3 separate regions of the Homo sapiens genome follow, and regions 1 and 3 are each linked to region 2. Evidence: fine-mapped expression QTL. A gene starts in region 2. Each other region holds a variant in brackets. All regions are shown on one strand. Distances are between the middles of the regions. Region 1 overlaps ARHGEF18 (Rho/Rac guanine nucleotide exchange factor 18). Region 2 holds the start of MCOLN1 (mucolipin TRP cation channel 1). Region 3 holds the start of PEX11G (peroxisomal biogenesis factor 11 gamma).

Region 1 (8,173 bases), 51 kb before region 2:
CAGGGGGATCATTTGAGCCCAAGAGGCTCAAGAGCTATGATTGTGCCACTGCATTCTAGCCTGGGTGACAGAGCAAGACCGTGTCTCTGAAAACAAATCTATAAACCATGGGTTCTGTGAACAGATGTGGACACGGATGTGTGAGATGTTTGTATATGAGTGTGTGACAGTATGGGTGCCACTGAGTGTCACCACAAGTCTGCACATTTAGCAGGGGTTGGGGACGGGCAATGACCAGCAGCTCCTTCAGGCTGCACCTGGCTCTGTCCAGAACAGGAGAGGTCGAGGGTCTCCTGTGCACGACCCTCGGGGGCTCTCCAGAGGCCGCACAGCAGGAACCTCACATTGGATGTATCTGCTGTTGTCCCCTCAGGCCCAGCCCCCAAGCCACCCTCCCAGCTTCAACGGGGAAGGGCTGGAGGGCCCTCGTGTGAGCATGCTGCCATCCGGCGTGGGGCCAGAGTACGCAGAGCGCCCCGAGGTGGCTCGCCGGGACAGCGCCCCCACCGAGAACCGGCTGGCCAAGAGCGATGTGCCCATCCAGCTGCTCAGCGCCACCAACCAGTTCCAGAGGCAGGCGGCCGTGCAGCAGCAGATCCCCACCAAGCTGGCGGCCTCCACCAAGGGTGGCAAGGACAAGGGCGGCAAGAGCAGGGGCTCTCAGCGCTGGGAGAGCTCAGGTGAGCCGGCCCCACCCCTTCGCCTGGGCCTGGAAGGTGCAACTGGTCAGGCTCTAGCGGCTCGCTGGGAGCCAGGAAATTCGGGACACCTGTGCCATCCTCTGGAGAGGAAAACCAGAAGGCACAGCTGGCATCGTGGCTGAGGCCACCCCACACAGGGCCGTGTTTGGTCTCCAGGCCCAAAACTGAGATGATCCACCCTGCATCTTCTCCACCTCAACCCTCAAAACAGTGGGATGGGGACCAGGAGCCTTAGAAAGGGACACGGGCAAGAAGGCAGAGATCCCTGGCCACGTGGGATCAGCACAGCCGGGACAGGGACAGGTGCAGGCGCCTCTGCTCATTGTCCCAGTTCCACAGAGCCGTTCCACAGAGTGGGACACGGAGCCCAGAGCAGCCCCAGTGTTTCCACGGAGGATGTCCAGGAGCTCCTCTGGGGGACACCTCCCTGGGGGACAACCAGGGATGTTCTGGGATGTTCTCTGAAGATTAAGGGTGTGTCCCGTGGTCACTAGGGCCTGTGCTATTTCCACAGGAGGCTCAGCCTCCTCTCCAGATGCCGGGTGACTCTGCAGGTCCTTCCGCAGGGAGGTTGGGGCCGTTCTCCCTGAATCTGGGGCTTAGCATCTGAGCAGCTCAGGTCACGGGATCCAGGCCGCCCGTGGGAAGTGTCAGGTGGGGGTGGCCAGGCCCCTCTGCTCTCGGAGGCTGCCCTGGCGGGTGGGGACAGCTGGCCAGCCTGGAGCTGGCCCAAATACCTTCTCTCTTCCAGCGTCCTTCGACCTGAAGCAGCAGCTGCTGCTCAACAAGCTCATGGGGAAAGATGAGAGCACCTCACGGAACCGCCGCTCGCTGAGCCCTATCCTGCCCGGCAGACACAGTCCTGCGCCCCCACCAGGTGAGCCCCCACCCCCTGACATGAGCCCAGTCCCAGGGCAGCGGGGCTGCGGCACCACCCGGCGACTGCTCAGTCTGAACCCTCTCTCTGTTCCAGACCCTGGCTTCCCCGCCCCGAGCCCACCGCCAGCTGACAGCCCCTCCGAGGGCTTCTCTCTCAAGGCCGGGGGCACAGCCCTCCTGCCCGGGCCCCCAGCTCCCTCGCCACTGCCGGCCACACCACTCAGCGCCAAGGAGGACGCCAGCAAAGAAGACGTCATCTTCTTCTAAAAGGGCCGTGACTCAAGGTGCAAGGCCCCTCCCTGCCCTGCCCACCCTTCCTGCTCTCTGGGGACCCCCATGGGGTCACCATGCCCACCCAGCTGTCCCCTCCTCTTCCCTAGCAAACCACTGATGACCGCCTGGCAGGGGCCAGCCTGTCGGTGCTCTGGGCCTTGCAGCTGTTTCTGTAGGGTTAGCGGTGGTGCCGGGGTCACTTTCTGAATCTCTTTTTTTTTTTTTCAAAAAGGAAAGTTTTTAATGGAAAGTTGAGCCAGAACTAAACCAGGGAGCTGTCTGAAATCATAGCACCCCATCCGGGTGGCGGGGAGATCAACTCCGAGCTGTTTTTCCGAGGCAGTGAGGAACGGTGCCGGCTCTGCACGGAGCTGAGGACAGGACAGACCTTGCTTTGAGAAGGAGCTGCCGGCCGGGGCCACGCTCCACAGCCGCCGCGCGACAGTGGAGCCAAGGGTTAGGGCACCAGGAGGGGCCAGGTGGCGTCGGCAGCATCTGTCCCCAGAATCAGGCAGAATCCACTTCCCAAACAGAGCCCCACGCAGGTTCACCATGAACCTCAGGGTCAGGGAATGAGCCAGGCACGGGGGCATGGGCAGAGAGGGCCACGGGGCAGGGCCCACTGAGGGAACATCAGTGGCCCTCCAGTCAGGTTCTGTGGGTTTGGAAGCCCATCGTGAAAGGGGCTGACCTTTGCCCCTTTTTACTTGGCATTGGTTTTGAAACCAGCTGTTTCCCAAACTCTGCTTCCCAAGGGCAACCGTTGCTGTTCACACGCTCAGCCTGTCTGGGGGAGCGGGCCTCTAGCTTCAGCCAGGGCGGGTACACACCCTGGGCACAGGGTCCTCAGCCCCCGGGAAATGAGCTCCCAGGGCTGGCGTCCCACCTTCCAGGTGGGGGCTGGCACATCACAGACTGTCGAGAGCGCCATGTCCCAGGGCATGCAGAGGATGCACCTAGAGACGTTGCAGCAAGTGGACAAGTGGCCGCTGTGCGGGCCCCTCGCTTGTAGTGAGCTGTTGCAGCTTACGGTCCGTTCCCTGGAGGGGTGGAGGAAGGAGGTGTTGGGCAGCATCAAAGGTGCTGGGACATCCCAGGGTGGTGAGATCCATCCACGATCCAGCTCCGGTGGAGAAAGGGCCCATGTCAAGCCTTGTTCTGCACCCCAAGCATTGGTGGTAGGACTGGGTCCTGGCTGATCGTCCTTGTTCCCAGTGGGGTACATGTGAGCCCCTGCCAGGGCCAAGTCCTTCTCCCGAACCCAGGGTCCTGGGAACTGCAGATCCCGGGGGGATTCAGCCCTTCTCCCACTGTGCTGGCAGAGGCACTCCTGTGACGCTGAATACAGTGAACAGGGACATTCCCGCCACTCGGGGACAGATGGGCACAAGGGAGGGGAAACTCCATCAGGAAGTGCTCCCCTGGGCAGAGGCGCCCACTGGGTGCTGTGGGCTCAGGAGGGGGCGGGGCAGGAGCTGGTGCCAACCGGGAACCAGAGCCCCACAGCCATACAGCCCATTGGTGACAAGGTCCTGAGAACACAGTGGCCAGGTGTCCCCAGGCTCCTGGCCCCTCCGACGACCTCAACTCTGCCCAGCCCGGTCCCTGGCCATCAGCGACGCTGTCCGCCCCCCGTCAGATCCCATGTGTGCCATGTTTATCATCAGTGTTTTGTATTTTTGTACTGAGTATCGGAGCACTTTACAGAAGCTGACTGTACATTCCTGTTCTGTTGTGAAGAGAACATTCCCAGACCCTGGCACCCTCCTGAGCCGGCGTGTGCCGGTCCAGCCCTCCGAGATGCCACAATTCCTTGGATGGGGGAGAAGTTCAAGGAATTTCTGCTCGGCCACGCGGTGGGAACCCCGCGTCCCCGCCATGTGGCAGAGGGGTCTCAGTCGTGCTAGGCATCGGGCGGCAGCGCCGACAGCCCTTCCCTCGCCAGTGCCCCTCGGCCACTCCTGGGTTGGAGCCCGATTTTATTTGTAAAGTTGACAGTCGAGCAAATGTTCCTATTTTCGTGGGATCTGCACACGTCTTTGTCAGTTGTGGTCATGATCTTAGTCACCTGCTAATTATTTTTACAATGATTACAACATTTCCTCACTGCGGGATATTTCTGACCCGCTTTAGAACTTAAGACCTGATTCTAGCAATAAACGTGTCCGAGATGAGCGGTGACTGGCGTGCACGTTCTTGGAGGTTTTATTTGAGGATTTTCTTCTGCCCAAACGTTGCTGCAGGAGTAGCAGGTTCTGTTGGGGGCTCCCCATGGCTCCTGCCCCTCAGCTCGCTCACCTGCCCTCCGTGTCCTGCTTAACGCTCTGAAGACCCCTTCAGGTCCAGTCCCCAGGAGTTGTTGGGGGTTTTGTTTTTGTTTTTGTTTCTGTTTTTTTGGTTTGTTTGTTTTTTTGAGACAGAGTCTTGCTCTGTCGCCCAGGCTGGAGACCAGTGGCAGGTTCTCAGCTCACTGCAACCTCTGCCTCCCGGGTTCAAGCACTTCTCCTGCCTCAGCCTCCTGAGTAGCTGGGATTACAGGTGTGCACCACCACGCCCAGCTAATTTTTGTATTTTTTTAGTAGACATGGGGTTTCGCCATGTTGGCGAGGCTGGTCTCGAACTCCTGACCTCAAGTGATCTGCCCGCCTCAGCCTCCCAAAGTGCTGGGATTACGGGCACAGGGCAGGAGTGGGGCGTGGAGGTGCCTGTGGAGGGTCCTGCCCACCGGGTACACTTCAGGCTTTGGTGGCGCCTCCACGAAAATCTTTTTGCTTTTAATCCACAATAACCGCAAAGGCTGGAACTTTCACTTCCTCCATCTGGGGTGAGAGGCAGCTTGGCCATGAGTATGAAATCATCATTTCCACCTGGTCTGAGTCCCGGTCCAGTGAGGCGAGGACCCTGCTGTTTCAACAGAGGGTTTCCC[A/G]TCACAAGGGGACTAGGTGTAAAGTCGATCACTAGCTCACTAGGAAGCGCAAAAAGGGAACTCTCAGGCAGCACTGTCCACCAGGAAGATGATGCAGGCCACGTGTGGAATTTTTCATTTTTAGTAGCCATATTAAAAAAGTAAAAGGAGGGCCGGGCACAGTGGCTCATCCCTGTAATCCCAGCATTTTGGGGAGGCGGGGGCTGAGGCAGGAGGATAGCTTGAGCCCAGGAGTTCAAGACCAGCCTGGGCAACATAGTGAAACCCCTTCACAGAAAAATTAAAAAATTAGCCAGGTTGGCCGGGCGCAGTGGCTCACGCGTGTAATCCCAGCACTTTGGGAAGCCAAGGTGGGCAGATTACGAGGTCAGGAGATCGAGACCATCCTGGCTAACAAGGTGAAACCCCGTCTCAACTAAAAATACAGAAATTAGCCGGGCGTGGTGGCGGGCGCCTGTAGTCCCAGCTACTCGGGAGGCTGAAGCAGGAGAATGGCGTGAACCCAGGAGGCGGAGCTTGCGGTGAGCCGAGATTGCGCCACTGCACTCAGCCTAGGCAATAGAGCGAGACTCCGTCTCAAAAAAAAAAAAAAAAAAAAAAAAATTAGCCAGGTATGGTGGCGTGCACCTGTAATCCCAGCTACACAGGAGGCCAAGGCAGGAGGATTGCTTGAGCCTAGGGGTTCAAAGTTGCAGTGAGCTATGATCGTGCCACTGCACTCCAGCCTAGGCAACATGGTGAGACCCTGTCTATAAGAGCTTAAAAAAAAAAAAGGAAATTTGGGGGATAGAAAAAAGAAATGAAATTTAAAAAAAAAAGAAAAAAGGGCTGGACGCAGTGGCTCACGCCTGTAATCCCAGCACTTTGGGAGGCCGAGGCAGGCAGATCACCTGAGGTCCGGAGTTTGAGACCAGCCTGGCCAACATGTTGAAACCCCATCTCTACTAAAAACACAAAAATCAGCCGGGCGTGGTGGCAAACACCTGTAATTCCAGCTACTCTGGGGGCTGAGGCAAGAGAAGCGGTTGAACCCGGAGGCGGAGGTTGCAGTGAGCCGAGACTGCACGATTGCACTCCAGCCTGGGGGACAACAGTGAGACTTCGTCTCAAAAAAAAAAGAAAAAAAGGATGTAATTAATTTATTACATTTTTATTTATTTTTTTGACATGGAGTCTTGCTCTGTCACCCAGGCTGGAGTGCAGTGGCACGCTATCTTGACTCACTGCAACCGCCGCCTCCCAGGTTCAAGTAATTATCCTGCCTCAGCCTCCCGAGTAGCTGGGATTACAGGCACCCACCATCATGCCCGGCTAATTTTTGCATTTTTGTAGAGATGGGGTTTCACCATGTTGACCAGGCTGGTCTTGAACTCCTAATCTCAGGTGATCTGCCTGTCTCGGCCTCCCAAAGTGCTGGGATTACAGGCGTGAGCCACCGCGCCTGGTCTATTTTTTCTTCATTGTGGTCAAATGCACACAACATAAAACTGGCCAGTTGCTATTCTCCTGATGGTGGGCATTGGAGTGTGTGTGTGTGTGTGTGTGTGTGTGTGTCTCCCCCCACCCTCTGATTTGCTCCACCCCAACCCCAGCCGTCCTCTGACCTCTGCCTAGCTGACCCCTCCACTGGGATGCCCCCAGCCTTCCTCAGCACTCCTTATGGGCCCTGGGGGGCTTGGAGGCACCCTAAAATGAGATGTTCTGCAAAGAGGGCCTGTAGTGGCTGGGCACGGTGGCCCACGCCTATAATCCCAGCACTTTGGGAGGCCGAAGTGGGTGAATCACTTGAGCACAGGAGTTCAAGACCAGCCTGGGCAACGTGGTGAAACCCCGTTTCTACTAAAAATACAAAATTAGCCAGGCATGCTTGGGCGTGCCTGTAGTCCCAGCTACTCGGGAGGCTGAGGCAGAGAATTGCTTGAACCCAGGAGGCGGAGGTTGCAGTGAGCCGAGATCGCGCCACCGCACTCCAGCCTAGGCGACAGAGTGACTCTGTCTCAAAAAAGAGGGCCCGTAGTCTTTAAGGTTCACAAAGGGGTCTGTTCCCAGCCCCTAAAAGGTTGAAAACCACTGGACCAGAATGGGCAACCCAGGGACAGAGTAGTGGTCACCAAGCCTGGGGGCTGCGGGTGGGTAACAGCTGAGGGGTGTGAGGTTTCTCTCTGGGGTGATGGAATGTTCTAAGGTTGACTGTGGCTCTGCTTGCACGACTGTGAATGTACTAAAAGCCACTGAACTGTCCCCCTTCTGTGGATAAATTTTATATGTGAATTATATTTCCATAAAACTGTTTAAACACACACACACACACACAACCACACACACACACAACCACTGGACCAGCTGAGAGAGTGGGAGAGCGGCCTCCCTTTCTGGAAGCATCCAACCTGTCTGCTCTGTGCCTGGGCTCCACATGGTCAGTGTCCAAGGCCTTCCCAGCCCAGGCTGTATCCCTGAAGGTGGCTTGCTTTTCCTCCTGGCACCTGTGACCAGGTGGTCATGTGGCTTCCCCACACAGAGGCGCTGCTCCAAGGGCCCCACTGGTATGAGCTAGTAAGTAGTTGGGTCTCCAGGTAGACAATGAGATGCCCTAATCATGCAGGTGCTGCTAGGGGCTGGGAAGGAGGCCTCTGCTGAGGGCCAGGACAGGCCTGCACCCCCGACAAGGGAAAGAAGGGGGAAACCCACCAAGCCTGGCCCACTCGTGAGTCCTGGGCAGAAGGAGCCCCCACAGATGGGGTCTCCCGCACCCGTGTGACCCTGAGCAGTCCCCGGCCTCCCAGCTGCTCAGAGCCACCTGGTATCTTCCTTGTAAAAAACAAACCACAAATGTACTCTGGGAGGCCGAGGCAGGCAGCTCACTTGAAGCCAGGAGTTCAAGACCAGCCTGGGCAATGTGGTGAGACCCTGTCTCTACAAAAAGTTTAAAAATTAGCTGGATTTGGTGATAAACACCTGTAGTTCCTGCTATTCAGGAGGCTGAGGTAGGAGGATCCCTTGAGCCCAGGAGTTTGAGGCTGCAGTGAGGCTATGATCGCACCACTGCACTCCAGCCTGGGTGACAGAGATCCTGGGTCAAAAAGATAAAAATCAAGGCAGTGCAATTGATATCACATGAGGCCCAAGGGCGCACACACACTGGCTGTTGTGTGTTCCTGGGCCAGGCTGTGCAACAATGTCTGCCAGAGGCCACATGTGCACAGACTCTGAAGGGTTGTTCTCAGCCAGCAGACTAAGCAGTGCCCTCATCCCATCCCACCACACATTGGCTGAGGTGGGAGCCCCAAGTATCTTCAGCGATGCCAGTGTGTGTTGCCCAGTCTCAGCCTGGAGCCCTTAAAATGCTCACAGTGGCCCTGCGTCGGCAGCACAGTGGCATGAGGCCACGCCCTCG
Region 2 (8,173 bases):
GACCCCAGCTATGAAGATCTGGAGCCCGTCTCGGAGGATCTGGACCCCGACGCCGAAGCTCCGGGCTCGGAACCCCAAGATCCCGACCCCATGTCTTCGAGTTTCGACCTCGATCCAGATGTGATTGGCCCCGTACCCCTGATTCTCGATCCTAACAGCGACACCCTCAGCCCCGGCGATCCAAAAGTGGACCCCATCTCCTCTGGCCTCACTGCCACCCCCCAGGTCTTGGCCACCAGCCCCGCGGTGCTCCCCGCCCCCGCCAGCCCGCCCCGGCCCTTCTCCTGCCCGGATTGCGGGCGAGCCTTCCGCCGCAGCTCCGGGCTGAGCCAGCATCGCCGCACGCACAGCGGCGAGAAGCCGTACCGCTGCCCCGACTGCGGGAAGTCCTTCAGCCACGGTGCCACCCTGGCTCAGCACCGTGGCATCCACACTGGGGCGCGGCCGTACCAGTGCGCGGCCTGCGGCAAGGCCTTCGGCTGGCGCTCCACGCTGCTGAAACATCGCAGCAGCCACAGCGGGGAGAAGCCGCACCACTGCCCGGTGTGTGGCAAGGCCTTCGGGCACGGCTCGCTCCTGGCACAGCACCTGCGCACGCACGGCGGCCCGCGGCCCCACAAGTGCCCGGTGTGCGCCAAGGGCTTCGGCCAGGGCTCTGCGCTGCTCAAACACCTGCGCACGCACACGGGCGAGCGGCCCTACCCGTGTCCGCAGTGCGGCAAGGCCTTCGGGCAGAGCTCGGCGCTGCTGCAGCACCAGCGCACACACACGGCCGAGCGCCCCTACCGCTGCCCCCACTGCGGCAAAGCCTTCGGGCAGAGCTCCAACTTGCAACACCACCTGCGCATCCACACGGGCGAGCGGCCCTACGCCTGCCCGCACTGCTCCAAGGCCTTCGGCCAGAGCTCAGCGCTGCTCCAGCACCTGCACGTGCATTCGGGCGAGCGTCCCTATCGCTGTCAGCTCTGCGGGAAGGCCTTCGGCCAGGCCTCCAGCCTCACCAAGCACAAACGGGTGCATGAGGGTGCAGCCGCTGCTGCAGCTGCCGCGGCCGCTGCAGCTGCAGCAGCGGCCGCCGGCCTGGGCCTCGGGCCTGGCCTAAGCCCTGCATCCATGATGAGGCCGGGGCAGGTCTCCCTCCTGGGTCCTGATGCTGTTTCTGTGCTCGGCTCTGGCTTGGGCCTCAGCCCTGGCACCAGCTCTGGCCGCAACCCTGACCCTGGCTCTGGGCCGGGCACTCTGCCGGATCCCAGCTCCAAACCCCTCCCCGGCTCCAGATCCACCCCCAGCCCTACTCCTGTGGAATCTTCTGACCCAAAGGCTGGGCACGACGCTGGTCCCGACCTTGTGCCCAGCCCAGACCTTGATCCTGTGCCCAGCCCAGACCCTGATCCTGTGCCCAGCCCTGATCCCAACCCTGTGTCCTGCCCTGACCCCTGTTCTCCCACTCGTGGCACTGTCAGCCCAGCCCTCCCTACCGGCGAGAGTCCAGAGTGGGTACAGGAGCAAGGGGCACTGCTGGGGCCTGATGGCTGAAGGAGACGCCGGCATCCTCGGGGGCCTGGGGAAGTTGTGTGTTGTGCAGTCAGTAAAATCCTCCCACTGCCTCCGGGCTCTGTGTCGTGGCTTGCCTTTTGTGCTTTCTTTCTGAGCACAGCCCCTTGCTCCGGAGATGGGACATTGTGGCCAGGGCCAGCCACAATCTGGAGCTCCAGTGTCCTGGCTTCCTTCTTGGGCCCACCAGCTAGACTTTCCAGCTTAACCCACAGTGTCTCATCCTGGTCCATCCCACTAGTCACCACTCTCTGTTCCTCTCACTTACCCCTTGCTCTTCAAAGCCCATACAGTAGGTATACAAGTGGACAAAAAAAGTTGCTCATTTATGCAATCAACAAACATCTCTGGATTGCTGGGGTCTCAGCAGGGAACAAGATAAATATGGCCTCGACCTGCATGGAGCTCATAGATACTAAATTCAGAATACTTAAAAAATAATTACGGGGTATAGTACATTCTAGGAGAAGCATAACAAGACTTCTGATATAAATGGCAGGCAGCTTTCTCAATGAAGGATTTTGTAATCCCAATAATCACTAATTTAATAATCAGTACTGTTTGCCCAGCCTTATGCGATAGTTTTTGCATTCTCTCATTTAATCCTCTCAACAGCCCCAGTAGGTAGATGACTTTGAATATCCCCATTTTGCAAATGAGAAAATTGAGGCACATTTTTTTTTTTTTTTTTAGACAGTCTTGCTCTGTTGCCCAGGCTGGAGTGCAGTGGTGTGATCATAGCTCACTGCAGCCTCGACCTCCTGGGCTCAAGCGATCCTCCCACCTTAGCCTCCCGAGTAGCTGGGATTGCCGGTGCATGCCACCGCCCACTGCGCTCAGCTTGGAGTTGAAGGGACTCTGGAAGATGTAGAAGTGGCATTGTCAGTGCCTAGATTTAAATCCCAATTGCCCTCCAGGGTCCAAATTCTTAACCATTACGCTCCAGGGCAAAAGTATGCAAAGGCTCTGGGGCTATAGAAAGATGAGCTTTGGATGGAGGTAGGAGCCAGATCAGAGGGCCCTGATAGACGAGAGTGGGGACTCTGCCTGTCATTACAGAGCAATGGGAAGCCGAGGGCAGGTTCTCGCAGGAAGGATAGGAATTATTCTTTGAAGATGCTTGTGGCTGCTGGGTAGAGAGTGGAGTGGAGGGAGGCTGAGATCGGGGAGGAGGTTGCTGCAAAGATCCAGGCCAGGAATGTTGGAAGACTCTGGGCTGGGGGCCATGGGGTGGGGATAAGTGGTTCTATTTGATACATAATTAGGAAATCGTGTTTGCTGAAGATGCGCAGGAGAAGGGTAAAAGGAGTTTCTGGGAGAAAGAGGAAGACAGCGTTGAGATAGTAGGCAGGGTCATCACCAGGCACCAAGGAGGATAAGGGGTCAAGCTCTGGACATGGAAGTCACAAGCCTGGCACCGGATTCGGGGCATGGCCGGGAGCCAGGGCAGAGCTCGTCGTTGCCAAACTCAGAGTCAGCCCATCCCCCGCCACCCAGAGCGCGTCGGCGCTAGGACCTAGCGACTGCCTTCGACCCAGAGGGCGCCGGCAGAGGCACGCATGCGCGCTGTTCCGGCAGGGGTTGTCGTGGCGCAGGGGGCGGGACCAGAGGCGGTCACGTGAGGGGCTCTGGGCTACCGGGTCACGTGACCGAGGCACAGATCAGCTGATGCCGGAGGGTTTGAAGCCGCGCCGCGAGGGAGCGAGGTCGCAGTGACAGCGGCGGGCGATCGGACCCAGGCTGCCCCGCCGTACCCGCCTGCGTCCCGCGCTCCCGCCCCAGCATGACAGCCCCGGCGGGTCCGCGCGGCTCAGGTGAGGGCGCGGGCGGCACCGTGGGGCCCCGAACTCAGGCGGGCGGGCTGTGTCTCCCACCTGGGGCGGCGGAGCTCCTAGTCTCTTTTTTTCTAAGCTCCAGCGCTGACTTTTCACGGTGGAGAAAAGGGCAGACGGCTCCTAGAACTTGGGCGGCGGGTGGGCACCAGCCTCTCCAATTCTTCCTCCTGAACCCAGGCTCTGCTGGGTTCCCAAACTCAGGCAGGGATCGCGCCGGGCCGCCAGCTTCTCCCTCTGGGGCGGCGAGGTTCCTGGGATTCCCACTGGGAGCCTAGGTTCCGATTGCTCAACTTCGTCTGGAACTCAGACAGCGGGCACCAGCTTCTCCAACCCGCACGTGAGACTCCCAGGCTTCCCCTCCTGATTCCAGGGGACAAATGCTCAGCTTCCCTAAGCTCAAGCCTGGAGAGCTGGAGGGATTGCCCCCAGGCGATTAACTCAGTTTTAGCTTTCCAAACCGCTGGAAGCGCAGCCTTCTTAAATTCGGGCTTCTAGCCAATTCTGATGCCACCCCTCCTCGGGGAGGCTGGAGGAAGACCCCTTGTGTTAGCTTCCCCTTCTGGAGCTAGCTGGGGACCCCTACCTGATAGATGTCCCGGTGTCCCAGCTAGTAGGGTCTGGGGTGGGTTAGCTGTAATCTCAGCTCTGTAAGCGGGCCCTGCCCTCTGGCTTTGTCGTAAACAGCCACAGCAGCATCTCATTGCAAAGGGAGGGGCCGGGAACTTGTCCCTCTCTGCAAGGGAGGTTCTGACAGTGCACACATTTATCCTGACTGCTTTGCTAGGCAGGAGGCCAGGCCCTAGAAAGCAGCACGGGGCCAGGCCCTAGAAAGCACATCCCCATGGGGGTGTGACAGGGACAGTTTTGGGCTACTGTGACTGGTTTTGACTCCAGCAGTTGCTGAAAGCTTAGATCTAACCATTAGGCTGGAAAAAAATAAACAGTGATTAGAACAGCTTGTGTTTGCTGAAGAGGTCTTTATCTGCTGTGTCTCACTGAATTCTCAGAGCAGCTTCAGGATCTCAACCTCAAGGCTCAGGGAGAGGGTGGACTTTTTTTTTTTTTAATAAACTTTTTTTTGTTGCCCAGGCTGTAGTGCAGTGGCATAATCCTAGCTCATTGTAACATCGAACTCCTGGGCTCAAGTGATCCTCCCAACTCAGCCTCCCGGGTAGATGGGGTCCCAGCTACTAACTACGGGCATGAGCCGTCACACCTGACTATTTAAAAAAAATGTTTTTTTTTTGTAGACAGGGAGGTCTCGCTGTATTACCTAGGCTGGATCCTCCCACCTTGGCCTCCCAAAGCCGTTGGGATAACAGGCATGAGCCACTGAGCCCAGCCAAGGGGTCGCCTTTTTAAAATTTCCACTCTTCAGATGAGGAGATGGAGGCTCAGGGAGGTACCTGGAGTCAACCTACTGTAAAGTGGCAGGTCTGGGATTTGATGCTAGGGCTGCATGATTTCTAGGAGCTGGTGCTTTTCAGGGAGATAAAATGAGTCTTTAGCGAATGTGTTCCATTATTATTACTTATGTTGTCAATTACCTCTTCTCCAGGTCCTTGGCTTCTGAGAGTGTCAGCTGATGGGCCAGGTTATAATGAACCCAGAGGTCATCTTTTGGGTATTTGTCCAGACAAACCTAGAATACAGGCTGAGTTCTATGCTCATGTCTGGAAGCTGGAGTTGGGATAAGCCCAGCAGGCTTGAACGCCCAGTGAAAAGCCAGTGGGAGCAGTTCATTCTCTCCCCACTGATCAATAACGGGAACATTGATGAAATGTTCTGACATTCACCATGGACCAGCCCCTGTGATCAATGCTTCATAAGCATCCAGTCCTTAGCGTTCCCATGAGACATATTATTGCCCCATTTCGCAGATGAGGAAACTGAGGCTCAGAGAGCTGGTGAGCAGGAGGGGCAGGAATCAGCCCAGGCCCTGTACCTCCCAAACCCAAACTCATAACCTCTGAGCAGGACGGGTGCATAGATACCTACAATGTCACAGGTTTTCTGGTTTTCTTTAGACCTCTCAGAGCTCTTCCTTGGCAGGAGCATGGGGACATGAAGATAGGGCGTGTGCTGCCTTCCTGGTTGGAGAAAGGGGAAAAGGGGAGTTGCCCAGGCCTCACCCCAGTGCCCTCTCCTATTCCCACAGAGACCGAGCGGCTTCTGACCCCCAACCCCGGGTATGGGACCCAGGCGGGGCCTTCACCGGCCCCTCCGACACCCCCAGAAGAGGAAGACCTTCGCCGTCGTCTCAAATACTTTTTCATGAGTCCCTGCGACAAGTTTCGAGCCAAGGGCCGCAAGCCCTGCAAGCTGATGCTGCAAGTGGTCAAGATCCTGGTGGTCACGGTGCAGGTGAGGCCAGCCAAGCAGGGGCCCCAGCTGAAGGCCACCTGTGGCTGCTGTGCTCCTTGAAGAGAGTCTTAAAGCAGCACTTTGGAAGGCCGAGGCCGGTGGATCGCTTGAGGCTGGGAGTTCAAGACCAGTCTGGCCAGCATGGTGAAACCCCATCTCTACTAAAAATACAAAAAAATTAGCCGTGCGTGGTGGCGGGTGCCTGTAATCCCAGCTACTTGGCAGGCTGAGGCAGGAGAATCGCTTGAATTGGGAGGCGGAGGTTGCCGTGAGCTGAAATCATGCCACTGCACTCCAGCCTGGGCAACAGAGCAAGACTGTCTCAAAAAAAAAAAGAAGCCGACTCTGAGGCTCAGAGAGGTTAGGAGACTTGCCCAAAGTCACACAGCAATAGAACATTGGGAGCTGGGATTTGAACCCAGGCAGTCTGACACCATGTTGACCCAATGGCTGCACAGATAGTTCTCCCTCCCCCATGCCAGACCCTGTGCTGGGCTCTGGGAACCCCAAGATGAATCAGACCCAGCCACTGCCCTAAGTGCTTACTTCATGTTTTGGGCTGACTTTAGCATGTCACCATGCCTCTAATTTTCCCTCTGAAAAGGGACCCAATTGTCCAGGCATGGTGGCTCATGCCTGTAATGCCAGCACTTTGGGAGGCTGAGTTGGGTGGATCATTTGAGGCCAGGAGTTTGAGACCAGCCTGGCCAACATTGCAAAACCCCGTCTCTACTAAAAATACAAAAATTAGCTGGGTTTGGTGGCAGGTACCTGTAACTCAGCTACTCAGGAGGCTGAGACAGGAGAATTGCTTGAACCCAGGGGGTGGAGGTTGTAGTGAGCTGAGATCATACCATGGCACTCCAACTTGGGCAACAGAGTGAGACTCTGTCTCAAAAAAGAAAAGAAAAGGGACCCAGTCATGGTACTTACCCTGAAAGTTTGGGTTTAACACAGAATCGGACATCCAGTAAACATTTAATGAACGTTAGTCCCTGCAGTGAGATAGATGAGTCCCCACCCTGTGTTGTACGGGGGAGGACACAGTGGTGGGCGTGGCATGGAGCTTATGCCAGGAGGTGGGGTGAAATTAATCAAAGCAAAGAAATGCACAAGTGAAATCCGTGTTTGTGGCCCAAGTTAGCAGGGCCCTGCCCCACCCCAGTGGACATCTGCAGGGCCCTCCCTGTCCTCTTCCAGGGCCTGTGCCCTGAGGGAGATACACCCCAACCCCCATCCTAGCCATGCCAACCTCTACTACCCTCTCCCCAGCTCATCCTGTTTGGGCTCAGTAATCAGCTGGCTGTGACATTCCGGGAAGAGAACACCATCGCCTTCCGACACCTCTTCCTGCTGGGCTACTCGGACGGAGCGGATGACACCTTCGCAGCCTACACGCGGGAGCAGCTGTACCAGGCCATCTTCCATGCTGTGGACCAGGTGCTGGTGGGCGGGCAGGTGCTGGTGGGCAGGCAGGTGCAGGTGGGCGGGCAGGTGCAGTTGGGCGGGCAGGTGCTGGTGGGCGGGCAGGTGCAGGTGGGTGGGCTGCAGAGAGCGGGCCGGACTCACAGGCCCTCCCCTTCTCTGCCCACAGTACCTGGCGTTGCCTGACGTGTCACTGGGCCGGTATGCGTATGTCCGTGGTGGGGGTGACCCTTGGACCAATGGCTCAGGGCTTGCTCTCTGCCAGCGGTACTACCACCGAGGCCACGTGGACCCGGCCAACGACACATTTGACATTGATCCGATGGTGGTTACTGGTGAGTGGGCAGGACGAGGCTTCACTGTTGGGAGCCTGAGCTGCTGGGATTAAAATCAACAGCTGTGGCTGGGCACGGTGGCTCACGCCTATAATACCAGCACTTTGGGAGGCTGAGGAGGAAGGATTGCTTGAGGCCAGAAGTTTGAGACCAGCCTGGGCCACGTAGGAAGACCTTGTCTCTACGCACAAACAAATTAGCTGGGCGTGGTGGCGTGCCCCTGTGGTCCCAGCTACTCAGGAGGCTGAGGCAGGAGGATCGCTTGAGTCCGGGAGGTTGAGGCTGCAGTAAGCTATGACCACGCTGCTGCACTCCACCCTGGGTGACAGAGTGAGACCCTGTCTCAAAAAAAAAAAAAAAAAAAAAAAACAAGTATGCTTAGTGTGAGTGTGACTCTTGCCACGTAGAAAGCACCAGATGTTATATTTTAATATGGCTCATTCAGTAAAACATCCGCAGGCCCAGAGAGTGCCAGGCCTGTAGGAATGACCCAACCCTGGGGAAGCACAGGGAAGAAGGCCACTGGGGACTCTGGGGAGACCAGCCTGGCCTCCCCGGCCCCCTGAGGCCCTTCCCTGACTCCCTGTCCTTAGACTGCATCCAGGTGGATCCCCCCGAGCGGCCCCCTCCGCCCCCCAGCGACGATCTCACCCTCTTGGA
Region 3 (8,159 bases), 32 kb before region 2:
CTAGCCACCAGTACACCGCCTGGTACAACCTGAATGTCTACCTATAAGAGACTGGTGGGGACAAGCTAAGAGTCCAGACTCAGGGGCATGGATGGCATAACCTAAATGTTCAACCATATGGGACTTGATTGGAACTAAAAACTGTCCAGCCATAGGGAGAGTCTTGCAATATCCTAAATCCCCACATGAGATTGTTTGGGACAACCCAGGGACCAACTACAGTGGCCCGGTCAGATCCTAAATGTCCAAACATGGGAATCTGTTTGGTATGTAAACGTCCAGCCAGGCTGGGTTGGCAGAGACGATCTAAATGACCAACTGGGGTTTTGTTGGAACCCATCGCTGCTTAGGCATGGCAGGGCCCAGGCCATGGCGTGTTCTTTGGTCTAGGTTGGCTGAAACAACCTAAATGCCCAACTATAGGGAATCTGGTTGGAAGTGAATGTCCAGCCACAGGGGAGCCCTGCAACATCCCAAATCCCAACACGAGATTGTTCAGGACAACTTCAGTGGCCTGGTCGGATCCAAAACGTCCAAACACGGGAATCTGGCCAGTGTGTCAATGTCCAGACAGGTTGGGTTGGCAGAAACTATCTAAATGTCCAACGCTGGCCAGACGCGGTGGCTCACGCCTGTAATCCCAGCACTTTGGGAGGCCGAGGCAGGTGGATCGCTTGAGGCCAGGAGATCGAGACCATCCTGGCTAACACGATGAAACTCCGTCTCTACTAAAAATACAAAAAAATAGCAGGGAGTGGTGGCGGGCGCCTGTAGTCCCAGCTACTCGGGAGTGCTGAGGCAGGAGAATCGCTTGAACCCGGGAAGCGGAGGCTGCAGTGAGCAGAGATCGCACCACTGCACTCCAGCCAAAATAAATAAATACATAAATGTCCAATGCTAGGGCACCGCATTTGAGCCTAGCTCGGACGGGGCCTCTGCGACGGAGTATCCTGGGCGACCCCGTCCCCTCTCTGGCCCGTTTCCCAGTCTCTGAGCTTGGGCCAAACTCTAGGACCTCCGGCCCCGGTCCGCCCCTGCCTCACCAGGCGGTCCCGGCCCCTGTACGACTCCAGCGCCGACGCCAGGCCGCTCAGCGACGCCATGGCAACTCCGTGACGTCACCGCGACGTCGGCGCGCCGCGCCAGGGGGCGGGGCCAGGCCGGGGTACCGGGAGCGCCCCAAAGGCTTGCGCGCAGGCGCGGCCGCAGGCCTTTGTCCCCCTGACCGGCTTTTTGTCCGCTGTAGGGGAGGGACAGAGTTTGCAGAGGTGGGGCCGACACGTGTGTGCTCTCCAGGCCTGCAGACCCTGGATCATCCTCGGAGTTTGCTGCATTCTGCCCCACGGCGGTTTGGCCAACTACCCACGCACAAAAAAATATATTTCTAAGTTTAACCAACTACCCACACGCTCCAAAAATATTCCAAGCAAAACCACCAACCTGTTCGCAGTGGTTCAAGGAGAGATTTTCCTTTTTAGTTTTTGTGCTTCACCTTTTCTGCACTGTCTGCCTGCCCGTAGTGAGCAGGAATGACTGCTGTAATATCACAACAAGGCATCTTTCGACGTTAAGGAAAGACGTTATCTTTGGACGTTAAGAATTGTTCTAGAATACATAAATAAAAAATAAAAATGCACAATTCAGTGACATTAGTACATGCACATGTTGGACAACCATCACCCCTTGCTAGTTTCGGGGTATTTTTATCACCCCCAAGAGAGACCCCCGTAGGAGACCAGCATATGCCCCTCTGAAATATGCGACCTTGGTGTAGGATTATTTTGAGCTGAGATCAATGAAGCTGATACCGGAAAAGCTCTCTGTTCTTCCCTGATTTGCCTCAAAGCAGGACCTAAAGGTACAAAGGTGCCCTCCTCCCCTCTCTACCAGGAAGGACAAAGGTTGATCACCAGGGACACCTTTAGACTCTTGTCTGGAGACGTCTTTTTTTTTTTTTTCTTTTTTTTTGAGACGGAGTCTTGCTCTGTCCCCAAAGCTAGAGTGCAGTAGCGCCATCTCTGCTCACTGCGTCCTCCGCTTCCCTGGTTCAAGCGATTCTCGTGCCTCAGCTTCCCAAGTAGCTGGGATCACAGCTGTGCACCACTGTGCCCGGCTAATTTTTGTATTTTTGGTAGAGTCGGGGTTTCACCACGTTGGCCAGGCTGTTCTCAAATTCCTGGCCTCAAGTGATCCGCCCGCCTCGGCCTCCCAAAGTGCTGGGATTACAAGCGTGAGCCACCGCACCCGGCCTCAATGTCCTTTTCCTTCGTCTTGTCACTTCTCCAAAAATTTGCTGCTATATGTTGAAGGTGCTATATAAGCAGGAGTTATATAAGCTATATAAGCCACCTCATTTCTCTTGGCATCTCCCATGTACACATAAGGTACACATGTTAATAAATTTGTTTTTCCCTTGTTAATTTTTTTTTTTTAGACGGAGCCTCGCTCTGTCGCCCAGGCTGGAGTGCAGTGGCACGATCTCGGCTCACTGCAAGCTCCGCCTCGCGGGTTCACGCCATTCTTCTGCCTCAGCCTCCCGAGTAGCTGGCACTACTACAGGCGCCCGCCACCACGCCTGGGTAATTTTTTTTTTTTTTTTTTTTTTGTATTTTTAGTAGAGACGGGGTTTCACCGTGTTAGCCAGGATGGTCTTGATCTCCTGACCTCGTGATCCGCCCGTCTCTGCCTCCCAAAGTGCTAGGATTACAGGCGTGAGCCACCGCGCCTGGCCTCTATTTTTTTTTTTTTTTTTTTTTTTTTTTTTTGAGACAGGGCCTCGCTCTGGGAGGAACCAAATTTGTAGATGTGAAGCCGCCACTTGTGTGCTCTCTGGGCCTGAGGACCCAGGATGATGCCCAGAGCTTGCTACATTCTGCCCCATGGTAGCTTGACCAACTACCCACAAAAAAGGGGTAGAGTGCAGCGGCACGATCTTAACTCACTGCAGCCTTGAACTCCTGGGATCAAGCCATCCTGCCACCTCAGCATCCTGAGTAGGTGGGACCACAGGTGCCTGCCACCACAATTGGCTAATTTCTTTTTATTTTTTATTTTTTGTAGAAATGGAGTCTTACCATGTTACCCAGGCTGGCCTTGAGCCCTGGGCTTAAGCAATCTTCCCACGTCGACCTTCCAAAGTGCTGGAATTACAGGCGTGAACCACCGCACCCGCCCTTCTTAATTCTTTCATTGCAAGGATCCATCACAGCTAAGAACTAAGAATAAAGGAA[A/G]AAGTATGTTTCCTCCCCTACACCCTGTTCCCATAAAGCAATCACTCAATTCCTCCCTCCTCCCAGCCCCTGGCAACCACTAATCTGCATTCTCTGCTGTCTCTCTGTATTTTTACCACTTCTTGATTTTTTTTTTTTTTTTTTTTTTTTGAGACAGAGTCTCACTCTGTCACCCAGACTGGAGTGCAGTGGCATGATCTCAGCTCACGGCAGCCTCCGCCTCCCAAGTTCAAGCAATTCTCCTGCCTCGGCCTCCCAAGTGGCTGAGAGTACAGGTGCGCACCACCACACCCGGCTAATTTTTGTATTTGTAGTAGAGATGGATTTTACCATGTTGGCCAGGCTGGTCTTGAACTCTTGACCTCAAGGGATCTGCCTGCCTCGACCTCCCAAAGTGCTGGGATTACAGGCATGAGCCACCATGCCCGACCTCCTTGATATTTCATACAAATGGAATCATACAATATGTGACCATTTGTGTCGGCCTCTTCCACCAAGCATAATAGGTTGTTTTGGTTTTTGCTTTTTGTTTTTGAGACAGGGTCTTGCTGTGTCACCAGGCTGGAGTGCGGTGGTGTGATCATAGCTCACTGCAGCCTTGAACTCCTGGGCCTGAGAGATCCTCCTGCCTCAGCCTCCACATTGCCTGGGACTACAGGTGCACGCCACCACATCTGGCCAATTTTTAAAATTTTTCTTTTGTAGAGATGCGGTCTCGCTATGTTCACCAGGCTGGTTTCGACCTCCTGGACTCAAGGGATCCTCCTGCCTTGGCCTCCCAAAGTGCTGGGATTACAGGTGTGAGCCACTGCGTGCAGCTGAGCATAATGGTGTTGAGGTTTGTCTAAGTTGCAGCATGTATCAGAAATTCATTCCACTTGCAGCTATATAACATTGCGCCATATGGATGGACCACATTTTGTTTATCCACGTATCAGCTGATGGTCATTTGGGCTGTTTCTGCCTTTTAGCGATCGTGAATAAGTACAGCTATAAACATTTGTGAATATGTAGTTGGAGTCCCTGGATTCCATTCCTTTGGGTCTATACCTAGAAGTGGGGTTGCTGGGTCATTTTGTAACTCTATGTTGAACTTTTTGAGTAATTGCCCAACTGTTTCCCACAGTAGCAGTACCATTTTCCATCCCCACCAGCATTACACAAAGGTTCCAATTTCGCCACTTCCTTGCAACATCCTTTTTTGATTATGATAGCCATCGTAGTAGGTGTGACGTGCCACCCCATTGTGGTTTTGTTTTGCCTTTTCCTGATGACTAATGATGTCAACGAGTCTGTTTGTTGGTTTGTTTGAATTTTTTTTTTTGAGACAGAGTGTCACTCTATTGCCTAGGCTGGAGTGCAGTGCTGATCTCAGCTCACTGCAACCTCCACCTCCCAGGTTCAAGCGATTCTCATGCCTCAGCCTCCCAAATAGCTGGGATTACAGCACACCCGCCACTGTGCCCGGCTAATTTTAGACTTTTAGTAGAGACGGGGTTTCGCCATGTTGGCCAGGCTGGTCTCCAACTCCTGATCTCAAGAAATCTGCCCACCTCGGCCTCCCAAAGTGCTGGGATTATAGGCGTGAGTCACCGCGTCTGGCCTCGATGTTAACCAGTTTTCTTTCACAGAATATTTCCTCTTGATTTCAACTCTTGTTACTCTTCTCCTGCATTGCTTTCCTCCTGTTGTTTAAAGTTACAGCAGATTCCTGCCTCAGGAACTTTGCATGTTCTGTTTCCTCTGCAGAAATGTTCTTGAGCCAGATACCAACGTGGCTCCCTCCTTCCCTAACTTCCTTTACTCGAATGTCATCCTCTCACGGGACCCACCCGATCACACCCTCCTGGACACTTCCTACCCATGTTACCTGCTGGTGACCTGTCTTGTTCATGGCTATATCCGCACAGCCTGGCAGAAAACAGAGAATCTGTTTTGTAAGTTTCACTGCCCTGTCCAAAGATCTCTTCTTGTGCTCCAAGGGAGCATGGAACACAAGGGGGCACAAGAAAGGCCTTGTCCACTCCTGTGATTTTCTTCCTCTCTGTCTCTCTCTCTTTCTGTTTTTGTTTTTAAACAGAGTCTCACTCGGTTGCCCAGGCTGGAGTGCAGTGGCATGATTTCGGCTCACTGCCATCTCCACCTCCCGGGTTCAAGCAATTCTCCTGCCTCAGCCTCCCAACCAGCTGGGATTACAGGCACCTGCTACCACGCCCCCACTAATTTTTGGAGTTTTTAATAGAAATAGGGTCTCACCATGTTGGCCAGGCTGGTCTCAAACTCCTGGGCTCAAGTGATCCACCCACTTCGGCCTCCCAAACTGCTGGGATTACAGGCATGGGCCACCATGCCCAGCCTCTTTTTTTTTTCTTCTTGTTTGTTTTTGAGACAGGGTCTCGCTCTGTTGCCCAGGCTGGAGTGCAGTGGCATGATCATAGCACCACTGCTGCATTGAACTCCTGGGTTCAAGTGATCCTCCATCCTCAGCCTCCCATAGCACTGGGATTACAGGTGTGTGCCACCACACCTGGCCCCAAGAGACTCTTTAACTTCCACATCCAGCTCCTTTTAAGACTTGGGTCCACTGGCTGAGCTCAGTGACTCACACCTGTAATCCCAATACTTTGGGAGGCCAAGGCAGGTGGATCACTTGAGGTCAGGAGTTGGAGACCAGCCTGGCCAATATGGTGAAACCCCGTCTCAAAAAAAAAAAAAAGACTTGGGTCCACGGGTCTTTGTGCACTCCCCTCTCCCCCAGTGGGGGGGTCACTCTTTTTTTTTTTTTTTAGAGTCAGAGTCTCGCTCTGTCACCCAGGCTGGAATACAGTGGTATGATCTTAGCTCACTGCAACCTCTGCCTCTGGGTTCAAGTGATTCTCCTGCCTCAGCCTCCCAAGTAGCTAGGATTACAGGCACCCACCACCACGCCCAGCTAATTTTTGTATTTTTAGTAGAGATGGGGTTTTGCCCTGTTGGCCAGGCTGGTCTCGAACTCCTGACCTTGGGGAATCCTCCCATCTCAGCCTCCTAAAGTGCTGGGATTACAGGCATGAGCCACTGCGCCCAGCCACGGGGTCACTGTTTTCACAGCAGAAAAATTGAAGCCAAGCCAGCTGCAGTGGCCTGTGCCTGTGGTCCCAGCTACTCAGGAGTCTGAGGCACGAGAATCGATTGAATCCAGGAGGTGGAGGTTGCAGTGAACCGAGATCACGCCACTGCACTCCAGCCTGGGCGTCAGCAAGACCCATCTCTAAAAAAGTAAAACAAAAAAAAATCCAAAGCCAAGGTCCAGACATGCAGAGGAAAGAGGTCACTGGCCGCAAAGCCTGCTGCTGCATGAATAAGCAGATCCCTCCTCTCAGGCCCAAGAGCCTTGGAACAGCGCAATGCATTTGCCCGAATGCTTCCTGTGTGCCGGGTCCCGCTCTAGGCAACAGAGATACAGCAGTGAGCTTTGCAGACACAGCCCAGCCCTCCCAGCGTCCCCCATCTGGCTAGGTCTGAGCTCGACCTTTGAAAAAGACACAGGAGCTGGCCTGGTGTTCACAGCTGGCCTTGGTGTTGCTAGGAGCTGGCCTGGCAGTCAAAGCAGGGCCCTGGTGTCCTCCTGCTGGACATAAACAATCTCACATGACGCCGACATCAGACAAGGCCACTCTGTGACCGCGGCAGAGCAAGACAAAACAAGCCTGCTCCATAATCATGTCTGAACACAGGCAAAACACGAACACTGTCCACACTATCAGAGTAACTGGACCTCCTCTGCTACTAGCTAATACCAGCAACGGCTGTTCCTTACCAAGCACAGCTTTAGTCTTCTGACTTCTTTCTTTCTTTCTTTCCTTCCTTCCTTCCCTCCTTCCCCTCCCTCCCTCCTTCCTTCCTTCTTCCTTCCTTTCCCTCCCTCCCTGCTTCCTTCCCTCCTTCTCTCCCTCCCTCCTTCCCTCCTTCTTTCCTTCTTCCTTCCTTTCCCTCCCTTCCTCCCTCCTTCCTTCCCTTCGTCCTTCCTTCCTTCCTTCCAGCTCCCAGCTTCCCTGGAGCTCTAAGGAGGCAGGATTTGCACAAAAAACAAAACCGTGCCCCCAAAACACCTAACAGAACTGCAGATCCCAAATCCCTCCCTCCCTCCCTCCCTCGCTCCCTCCCTTCCTTCCTTCCCTCCCTCTCTCCTTCCTTCCTTCTGACTTCTTCATACAGATGATTAAGATGCTGAATAATAGTTACTTCTCTCCCTAGCTGCTCTTTTGTTTTGTGTTGTTTCTGAGACAGAGTCTCACTCTGTCACCCAGGCTGGAGTGCAGTGGCGGAATCATAGCTCACTGCACCCTCACTGCAACCTCAATGTCCTGGGTTCAAGAAATCTTCCCACCTTAGCCTCCCAAGTAGCTGGGACTATAGGCACGCGCCACCGCACCTGGCTTTTTAATTTTTTATAGAGATAGGGTCTCACTGTGTTGCCCAGGCTGGTCTCAAACACCTGGGCTCAAGCAGTCCTCCCGCTTCAGCCTCTCAAAGTGATGGGATTACAGGCCTGAGGCACTGCACTCAGCCGCCCTTGCTTCTTTTTTTTTTTTTGAGACAGAGTTTTGCTCTGTGGCCCAAGCTGGAGTGCAGTGGCACGATCTCAGTTCACTGCAACCTCCACCACCTGGGTTCAAGCGATTCTCCTGCCTCAGCCTCCTGAGTAGCTGGGATTACAGGTGCCCGCCACCATGCCCAGCTAGTTTTTTTTTTCTTTGAGACAGAGTTTTGCTCTTGTCTCCCAGGCTGGAGTGCAATGGCGTGATCTCAGCTCACTGCAACCTCCGCCTCCTGGGTTCACGCAATTCTCCTGCCTCAGGCTCCTGAGTAGCTGGGAATACAGGTGCCCGCCACCACACCCGGCTATTTTTTATATTTTTAGTAGAGACAGGGTTTCACCATGTTGGC

What was found.
Region 1: its variant is fine-mapped to the expression of MCOLN1 in lung (TOPMed, PIP above 0.99).
Region 3: its variant is fine-mapped to the expression of MCOLN1 in whole blood (INTERVAL, PIP 0.98).

What each region holds. Positions count from the first base shown.
Region 1 is chr19:7,468,452-7,476,624 of GRCh38, forward strand. It overlaps ARHGEF18 (Rho/Rac guanine nucleotide exchange factor 18), which reads left to right. Exons shown (of 29, transcript NM_001367823.1): 27 at 374-680; 28 at 1,453-1,578; 29 at 1,675-4,027. The coding sequence ends at 1,847. Among named protein-coding and RNA genes, the nearest start is that of PEX11G, 16 kb to the right of the region's middle. RefSeq lists a silencer at 4,704-4,753. The variant A/G (reference allele first, on the strand shown) is at 4,780.
Region 2 is chr19:7,519,414-7,527,586 of GRCh38, forward strand. MCOLN1 (mucolipin TRP cation channel 1) reads left to right here and starts at 3,211. Exons shown (of 14, transcript NM_020533.3): 1 at 3,211-3,368; 2 at 5,548-5,753; 3 at 7,026-7,193; 4 at 7,348-7,513; 5 at 8,107-8,173. The coding sequence starts at 3,338. It overlaps ZNF358 (zinc finger protein 358), which reads left to right. Exons shown (of 2, transcript NM_018083.5): 2 at 1-1,612. The coding sequence ends at 1,536. LOC105372261 (a long non-coding RNA gene) reads right to left here and starts at 5,551. Exons shown (of 3, transcript XR_936294.3): 1 at 4,937-5,551; 2 at 3,429-3,749. RefSeq lists a silencer at 3,245-3,374.
Region 3 is chr19:7,487,908-7,496,066 of GRCh38, forward strand. It overlaps PEX11G (peroxisomal biogenesis factor 11 gamma), which reads right to left and starts at 1,128. Exons shown (of 5, transcript NM_080662.4): 1 at 1,044-1,128. The coding sequence starts at 1,103. RefSeq lists silencers at 875-934, 985-1,314, 4,836-5,130. The variant A/G (reference allele first, on the strand shown) is at 3,231.